Linked DNA regions of Homo sapiens. The protein of the gene in region 1 purifies or fractionates together with the protein of each later gene. This does not show direct contact. Each region holds a gene or a part of one and is shown on either strand. Other genes may lie near its edges.

Region 1 (5,177 bases):
TTTTTGAGACAGAGTCTCACTCTCTTGCCCAGAATGGAGTGCAGTGGCTCAATCTCGGCTCACCGCAACCTCTGCCTCCCAGCTTCAAGCGATTCTCCTGCCTCAGCCTCCCGAGTAGCTGGGATTACAGGCGTGTGCCATCATGCCTGGCTAATTTTTGTATTTTTAGTAGAAATGGGGTTTCACCATGTTGGCCAGGCGCGTCTCGAACTCCTGACCTCAGGTGATCCATCCACCTCAGCCTCCCAAAGTTCTGGGATTACAGGTGTGAGCCACTGCGCCCGGCCTGTAGTCTTTCAAATGGCTGCATAGTATTACATAGTGTGAATACAAACCATATTTAACTATTACCTTATAATGATAAAATGCGAGCCTTTATCTTCTTGCCAGTTATCTCACTTGAGTAAAAATGTGTGCTTTTTTTTATCTGTTCTTTGGCTTCTAGTTGAAAATGAACTACCTCCACCAGAAAATATAGAAGTCAGTGTCCAAAATCAGAACTATGTTCTTAAATGGGATTATACATATGCAAACATGACCTTTCAAGTTCAGTGGCTCCAGTAAGTTCCATTCCATAAATTTCCTTTTGCCCAGTTTGTTTTGATTATGCTTCTTTTCGCTCTGCATCAGTCACCAGGTCCTTGCACACAGAATGACCGACTGGGAGGTGGGTACGATATATTGGAAACGTGAGAAATCTCATTTCTAACCCCAGTTCTGCCAGTAACTAACTGGATGACATTGAGCTAATCGCTTAACCTCCATGGGCCTCAATTTCTTCACTTGTAAAATAGATGGATTCTAATATCTGGGGTTCTTACTGGCTTAAGAAAAAAAAGAAAGTGTAACTAGTTGCATGTGTTATTTCCCCAATCTGGAAGACTCGACAGTTGACCCTGATCTTTTTCTAAGAACTCACTTCTTCCATGAGTCCTTAAAATGATCTCAGTCCACTCACTTGTTCAATTCAAAAAATTAGCCTTCCTATTTTCTTTATTACTTTAGTGGTTTTGACAAAATTTTGTAGTAGATACTTCGGTGGGAAAGAAAGTTGGAAAGAACTATGTTCTATGTGGTTGAGCAGAGGCTAGCTAAACATGGATGAAGTCCAGGCGCTGCATAAATGAAAGAGAACTGGCCTGGTGCAGTGGCGCATGCCTATCGTCCCAGCTACTCAGTGGGCTGAGGCAGGAGGATTACTTGAGGCCAGGAATTGAGGCTGCAGTGTTGTATGATCACACCTGCTAGTAGCCGCTGCACTGCAGCCTGGGCAACATAGTGAGACCCCCATCTCTAAGCATTAAAATTTTTAAAAAGCTGATAAAAGAGAACTGCATGTAGTTTATATTGATTGGAAAATTGTAGGAGATGAATAGAGAAAAGAGAAGAGGAAAATTAAGTAGAAGGAAAAATGGGTTATGGGGAGAAAAGAGATGGAAAGAAAGATATACATTGGTGGCAGAGGAGTAGAGAGAGCAAAGGCAAGTATAGCTAAGACAGGAAAGGAAAAGTCAGAAGAAACTGGAAAGAAACAGAAAAAATGAGGGAGAAGGGAAGTGTAAGTACCGCTATGATCAATTTCTATCTTTTAGTGTTAATTTTGAACCAAGGGTGACTGGTAGAATGCAAATGCATTTATGTGCATATGTGCCCCACAATGCATATATAACCTCACAAACCAATCAGGAAACTGTTCAGTAGTCTTTTGTGTATACCTCACTTTCAGAAGTGAATAAATAATAGGGTCACCAAATAGATAATGAGAGGTATTTCTGATAGCTGATCTCTAAGCTTCTTTTGGGTACTTACCATATTGTACAAAGCACTGAAGAAATGGAAAGAGTCAGCAGAATCAAACGTGGTTCAAAAATTGAAAGCAGTTAGCCAACATTGCAAAGTGTTGTGTGGTTTAGGACTAAAGAGTGGTATACAAATTATAAGGGTTGCAGAAATTGAAAATGTAAAGGTGAATAGGGGCTAAAGAGACCAAAGAAGCCATAAGGAAAGAGATAAGGTATGAACAAGGCCTTGATTGTTAATTCAGATTTTTTTTAAGTAGACAACTATTAGATGTTAGTTTTCTGTGTCTGTAACTAATTACCACAGACTTAGCAACTTAAACAGCTGTTTATTGTCTCAAAGTTTCTGTGAGTCAGGAGTCCAAGCGTGGCTTAGCTGGCTCTTCTGCTAAGCAGTCAAGGAGTCAGTCATTCATACAAGACTTGGGGGCCGCTCCCAAGCTCACATGTTGTTGGCAGAATTTATTTCTAGAGCTCATGGTGGCTCACTTCTTAGAGGCCATCAGGAAGGGAGAGTCTGACCTCTAGATCCTTTTTTTTTTTTTTTTGAGACGGAGTCTCACTCTGTCACCCAGACTGGAGTGCAGTGACATGATCTCAGCTCACTGCAACCTCCGCGTCCTGGGTTCAAGTGATTCTTCTGCCTCAGCCTCCCAAGTAGCTGGGACTACAGGTGTGCACCACCACACCCAGCTAATTTTTGTAGTTTTAGTAGAAACGGGGTTTCACCGTATTGGCCAGGCTGGTCTCGAACTCCTGACTTCAGGTGATCCACCCGCCTCAGCCTCCCAAAGTTCTGGGATTATAGGCGTGAGGCACCGCGCTCAGCCATTTTTTTTGTATTTTTAGTAGAGACGGAGTTTCTCCATGTTTGCCAGGCTGTTCGCAAACTCCTGGCCCCAAGTGATCTGCCCACCTCAGCCTCCCAAAGTGCTGGGATTAGAGGCATGAGCCACCATGCCTGGCCTAGATCCTCTTTTAAGGGGTTCATCTGATTAGGTCAGGCCCACCCAGAATAGTCTCTCATTTGATTCAACTGATTTGGGACCTTAATTACATCTGTGAAATACCTTCTCTTCTGCCACTTAATGTAACCTAATTATGAGAGGAGGGCCTCCATCGTATTTACAGGTCCTGCCCATGCTCAAGAGGAGGGGATTATACAGGATGTGTACACCAGGGGGCAGGAATCTTGGGGGCCATCTCAGAATTTTGCCTTCTCCAGTGGGGAGGATGTCCTTCTAGAGTAGCAGAACATTTGGACACCAGGTGGCAATGGGAAGAAAGCTGAATAAGTAGAATGGGACAAGATTAGGGTCAACCTCAGGCTGTCCTGTAGGCTTTTGGGGATTTTGTGTTGGGGTGATAGTTAACCTGAGCTCTGGATTTGAGGAAGGTGCATGCGGCGACATGGTATGTGGGAGAGTGGACTAAGGAGACACTAAAGAGAGATAAGGAAACCAGTCAGGAGGCTATTAGAGTTCTGGGCTTGAACTGAGATGCTTTTAGCTGTTGGTTTCTGGGCAAGTTACTTAACCTCTTTAGTCTCGTACTTATACTTGCTCTTATAACCCCGCAGTGTGTCTCTATTTTAGCACTTAATCAGTGTCCATTGGTATGCTGGCGCATGTTTAGCAGCTGGCTTTCCAGAAAGAAAAAGTCCTATTTTGTAGTGTTTGCTGATTTTTATGATATAAATATTCCCACCATGGCCACTTTCAAGCCACCAGCCTGATGTCCCTGAATATGGAGTTGGGAACATATGCACAGTAGCACACCACTATCATATAGCTACAATAGATAAAGATAGCCCCAAGAGCTTAGAAAATAAAATGTAGTAAAATAATTAGGACAAGATGAATTTATTTATTACCTCTGTCTTTAAAACAATTTTTTATTTGCAAATTTATATAACTTAATTTTTAGTAATGGTTTTTCTTTAAAAACCAGTTTGTATTTTAGGAGGCCGAGGTAGGTGGATCACCTGAGGTCAGGAGTTCAAGACCAGCCTGGCCAACATGACGAAACCCCATCTCTACTAAAAATACAAAAATTAGGCAGGCCTGGTGGCGTGCACCTGTAATCCCAGCTACTCAGGGGGACAGAGGCAGGAGAATTGCTTGAACCCAGGAGGCAGAGGTTGCAGTGAGCCAAGATCCTACCACTCCACTCCAGCCTGGGTGACAGAGCGAGACTCGGTCTCAAAAAAAAAGCCAAAAAAAATAAACCAGCTTGCAGCATTCCTGGAAATTCTAACTAACAGATGTTCTTGCATATTGATATGAGCCACCTCCAGCAGAGCACAACATGACCACAGTCTGGAACAGTCTTTGGTTTTCTTTTATGTTAGATGCATATCTCTTCCATTGTTTGTGAGTTTCCTGAGTGTGGATACTATTTATTTCTGTAACCTTAGCCCCTAACATAGTGTCTGGCAATTGTAAATACTTAATAAATATCTAATGAATTTAAAAAATATTTGTCTTAAAAGCGCCTTTTTAAAAAGGAATCCTGGAAACCATTTGTATAAATGGAAACAAATACCTGACTGTGAAAATGTCAAAACTACCCAGTGTGTCTTTCCTCAAAACGTTTTCCAAAAAGGAATTTACCTTCTCCGCGTACAAGCATCTGATGGAAATAACACATCTTTTTGGTCTGAAGAGATAAAGTTTGATACTGAAATACAAGGTAAGGCAGTAGTTTTTACTGGAGATTGTAATTCTCTGGTGCAAGTTTTTAAAATTGTTTTTCTAATTGAACATTATTTCTTTACAAATTTTTTCTAGCTTTCCTACTTCCTCCAGTCTTTAACATTAGATCCCTTAGTGATTCATTCCATATCTATATCGGTGCTCCAAAACAGTCTGGAAACACGCCTGTGATCCAGGATTATCCACTGATTTATGAAATTATTTTTTGGGAAAACACTTCAAATGCTGAGGTAAAAAGACTGTATAGTATAATTTTGTAACTTAGAGTTATAATTATGATTTGGGTAAATAAAGCTTGAATGTAAAATTTGGGGGAAATTTTTAAACTTTATGTGGGCTGGATGCAGTGGCCTGTAATCCCAGCACTTCAGGAGGCCAAGGCGAGAGGATCACTTGAGCCTAAGGGTTTGAGACCAGCCTGGGCAACATAGGGAGACCCTGTCTCAATAAAAATTTTAAAAAATTAGCCTGGTGTGGTGGCGTGCACCTATATTCCCAGCTACTTGGGGTGGGAGGGTCACTTGAACCTGGGAGGTCAAGGCTGCAGTGAGCCATGATCGTGCCACTGCACTCCAGCCTGGGTGACAGAGTGACTGACAGCTTGTCTTTAAAAAAAAAAAATGTGATTAACTCAGATATTAACAAAATGAAGATTATGAGCATT
Region 2 (4,338 bases), on another chromosome or scaffold:
GCAGGGCTCACCAGCCTATGTGGTGCTCAAAATGGCCATGTGTCCCCCACAGTCAGCCCAGAGCACCCAGGCCACTTCAGAGAGTCAGGGCAGCCATGAGGACAATGGGGACCCACCCACCCAGGTTCTGCTGTCCCAGGAAGCAGTTCCTGAACCCCTGAGCCCCCAGCTCCTGGAGAAATCAACTCACTCTGTCCACACGCTCAGGGTCCCCACCACCACCTAAAAAAGAAGCAGTCTCCTTAGCAGGAAGGGAGGGGCCCATGAAGCACCCCCCTCCCAGAGGACAGTGGGGCGCAGGGCTGGGCTGGGGGCTGGGACACTGGACAAGGAGCCCTGGGGCTGGGGACAGAATGGGGCCTTACAACTCAGAGACACCCTGAGGAAGGGGGATGAGAAGGGGAACTAGAGTAAAAACAAACACTTGGAAAATCTCTGGTTCTGCTCTGACCAAGGCTGAAAAAATCCCACGACCACTTCTCATCCTCACCCTTGTCACCCAGTTGAGGAGCCGACTGCCCCCTGCCTGGCTGGGCCTGAAGATGGGAGGAACTGGCCCTGCCCTCCTGGACTTGGCTGGGAGATATGGGGACCCCCAGACCTGGGAGAGGGACTGAAGAGACCAGGGTCCTGGGGGGTGCACGGGATGTGGGGATGGGGGTGACCACGAGGAGGAGGATAGAGCCAGGCTGGAGGCACTTAGACTTGGGGCAGGGGCAGGCGTTTCTGTCTGTGGGAATAGGGTGGGAGGGGGCAGGGCAGAGAGTGCCCTGTGCCCCCGCCCTCAGCCAGCACCTACCTGAGCAGATGCCTTTCAGGTAAGGAAGGACTTTCTTCCACAGTAAAGACTTGCAAACAAACACAGCCACAATCAAGACTACGGCTGCAACTGTGACTCCTATGATGATGCCTGAGAGAGAACAGGGAGAGGCAGGAGTCCCTGGGCTGGAGGTCACCGTCTCCTCCACAGCTGGGACTTCCCCACTGTGCTTTGTACCTGATTCTTTGTGGACACATTCGATGTCACTCCAGGGTGTACAATCACCGACCTTGACCATCCCTCTGGGACACCTGGGTACACACACAGAGGGAGAGGGGGGACTCTTGATGGAAAGCTGGCCAGGTGGGATGAAAGAGGAGCCACCCTCCCTCCCCAGTGTCCCTGAGAAGGTGTCAGGGGAAGGACAGTCTCCTCGTGTCAGCAGTGGGTCCCCCTGTGCTCCCTTCTTGAGGCTGGGGAAGGGTCTGAGCATGCGCACTTCAGCCCCTCGGCCTCCCTGCTCTGGGGTCAGAGCTGCAGTTCCAGGAGCCTTCTGTGCTGGGCACACACTGAGCTTCCCTGGGCTGCAGGGGAGGCCTGCGTTAGGAGCAATCACACTCCAGGGGAAGGTCACAAGCCCGTGTGGCCACAAGATGAGTCCGGTCTTCCAGTCAACCACAAAAGTGAGCTCTTGTCCCCAGCTGTCTGCCCATTTCCCCCAATCACAGCAAATACTAGGGGGGCCAGAGAAGAGCAAATTACTCTTGGCCCCTAAAACCCAAATAGGGAAAAGACAGGTCTTACTGAGGGATCAGGGGCCAGGGGTGAGGCCGGCTGGGTGGGCTCAGGTCCTCATGGGAACTTGAAGGAGCTCCACCCATGGCCTTATTATGCCTTTTGTGGGCCATGGGCACTTTTGTCTTTATGGGCCCCTGCATGCATAAAAATATTAAAAAATACATTTTATTGCTGAATTGGTATAAAGATGAATATATGCCTGGCTGCATTCTACTCATTCTTCTTATTTCAAGAGAAATTAAATCATTTCATGGGCCCCTAAAATTATCATGGGCCCCAAGTCATGGCCTTCTGTGGTCAGTGAACAAGTCAGCCTGGTCAAGGGGACTCGTGCTGGGGAGGGGTGGAAAGAGGCTGCTGCAGGGGGCAGGGGTGGTGACACGCAGAGGGACCAGGAGGGGCAGCCACAGCCTCAAGGATGCCCCTTGCGGGTGCTGTCAGGGGAGAGACAGGGGTACAAGGAGACTTGGGTCTTTTGGGGTTCCATGGAGCTACTGGGAGCCCCCGGCTCCTGTCTCACCCTGTGCGGCACTTCCGGCACATCTCAGGAGAATCTTCTTCCCGGAAGGTGCCTTCTTCGCACTGACACACTGTGTTTCTGGTCGTGGTGCAGGGACTTAGCTCCACTTCACCTGACGACAGAGCATAAGGTTTTGGGAATGTGTTTTCCTGATGTGTCCCTTGACCCTTCCTCCCCACCCCAAGACCCTGCTACTCAGCTCAACTCAGTTTGCCAAGGAGTTCTGAGGGCCAGTTTCTGCACCAGCACACTCATGGCTCATTCAGGATACCCACCCTTCAGCTGTCACTAACACTCGTTGAGTCATACAAAAGGACCACAGTTCATTATTTATTACATTAGATTAGGGGAAAGCACCGTTTAGGGGACAAGCATCGTTTAGATTGCATGGCCAGTAGCAAGGGAAGTGCAAGGGATCACCTGAGAGACTGCAAGGAGAGGAGCCCTTGGGGGACTTCCCCAAGGCCCAGCCTGCTGGGGAGGAGGGAGAGGCCTGAGAACCTGAAGGGTGAGTGAGGCCGAGCACCTGCCAGGAGCACAGAGCCCAGGGGAGAGAGCCTGGCCCCAAAGCAGACCTGTGCCACTGCTGAGATCCAGCCCTGTCCACTTGGCCTGGCTCATGGCCCCACCCCCTTGCAGCTGACAGTTTAAAAGATTTCCTTACCATGTAGCATACATTATACAAATAATTTCTGTATTATTATTATTTTAATTAATTATTGAGACAGGGTTTTGCTCTGTTGCCTGGGCTGGAATGCAGTGGCACAATCTCGGCTCCCTGCAACCTCGGCCTCCTGGGCTCAAGAGATCCTTCTGCCTCAGCTTCCTAAGTAGCTGGAAATACAGGCACGCGCCACCATGCCCGGCTAATGTTTATATTTTTGTAGAGACGGGGTTTCTCATGTTGCCCAGGATGGTTTCAAACTCCTGGGCTCAAGTGATGCCTCCCAAAGTGTTGAGATTACAGGCATGAGCCACTGTGCCGGGCCTGTTTTATTTATTAAAAAGCTCAAAGACAAAATCATGGAACATGGTATGATGAAGACCAAGGTGGACCAGAATCTAGGTCTCCTGATCCCATTTTAGCTACAACTTTTATGTCATCACCCCGCATTCCACCTTTAGGCATGGGGTCCATATGTTCTGTACCTGAATCACACCTGGTGCAGCGCAAGCAGAAAAGGAGGTCATTCCAGTGAGTGCTATAGTCCTGTCCATATTTGCAGGAGATGCAATCTCTACCGTCTTCTGAGATATGGTGTCCTGGGAGGGGAGAGAAAAGCCGGTGAATGAAATGCCACAGGATTCCCAGAAGCTGGCAGTGGTGGCTGGGGGACTCCTCTTTCAGGGATGTGTGGAACCAAAAGAGGGAAATCTCCTCTACCTAGCTTGGTCAGTTCATCAATTCTGCATTTACACACCTTAAACCAGCACTGCCAAAAGAAATATAAGCCACACATTTATTTATTTTATTTTTTATTTTTGAGACGTAGTCTCACTCTGTCACCCAGGCTGGAGTGCAGTGGCGTGATCTCGGCTCACTGCAACCTCCGCCTCCTGGGTTCAAGAGATTCTCCTGGCTCAGCCTCCTGAGTAGCTGGGATTACAGGCACACACTACCACACCTGGCTAATTTTTGTATTTTTTTAGTAGAGACAGGGTTTCACCGTATTGGCCAGGCTAGTCTCGATCTCCTGACCTCATGATCTGCCTGCCTAGGCCTCCCAAAGTGCTGGGATTACAGGCGTGAGCCACTGCACCCGGCCTATTTATTTATTTATTTATTTATTTATTTATTTATTTAGACAGGGTCTTGCTCTATAGCCCAGGCTGGAGTGCAGTGGTGTGATCTCAGCTCACTGCACCCTCGACCTCCCGGACCCTCCCTCTCCCCCCGACCCACAAATAGCTGGGACTACAGGTGCACACCACCACACCGGGTTAATTTTTAGTGTACTTTTTTTTTGTAGAGACGAGGTTTCACCATGTTGCCTAGGCTGGTCTCAAACTCCTGGGCTCAAGTGATTCACTCTCCTTGGACTCCCAAGGTGCTAGGAATACAGGTGTCAGCCACTGTGCCCAGCCCACATATGAAATTTAAATCCACACTCAGCACATTAAAAAAGGTGAGAAGGGGTGAAATTAATGTTAATAATGCATTTTAATTTAATGTACCCCAGATAATATCACTTAAATATGTAATCCACATAAAACATTGAGATATTTTACAGCATTTTTTTCACAGTACGTCTTCAAATCC

The links. Proteins that work in one complex are often made in the same cells at the same time.
Region 2: the proteins of IFNAR1 (region 1) and TNFRSF10B purify together in Homo sapiens (affinity purification with mass spectrometry; one large-scale study listed by BioGRID and IntAct). This does not show direct contact.

The regions. Positions count from the first base shown.
Region 1 is NC_000021.9:33,344,801-33,349,977, forward strand, and holds part of IFNAR1 (interferon alpha/beta receptor 1 isoform 2 precursor), read left to right. Parts: intron 1-445; coding exon 446-560; intron 561-4,290; coding exon 4,291-4,490; intron 4,491-4,588; coding exon 4,589-4,743; intron 4,744-5,177. UniProt on the Homo sapiens protein: Together with IFNAR2, forms the heterodimeric receptor for type I interferons (including interferons alpha, beta, epsilon, omega and kappa).
Region 2 is NC_000008.11:23,027,532-23,031,869, forward strand, and holds part of TNFRSF10B (tumor necrosis factor receptor superfamily member 10B isoform 1 precursor), read right to left. Parts: intron 3,342-4,338; coding exon 3,228-3,341; intron 2,191-3,227; coding exon 2,079-2,190; intron 1,072-2,078; coding exon 800-1,071; intron 223-799; coding exon 191-222; intron 1-190. UniProt on the Homo sapiens protein: Receptor for the cytotoxic ligand TNFSF10/TRAIL. The adapter molecule FADD recruits caspase-8 to the activated receptor.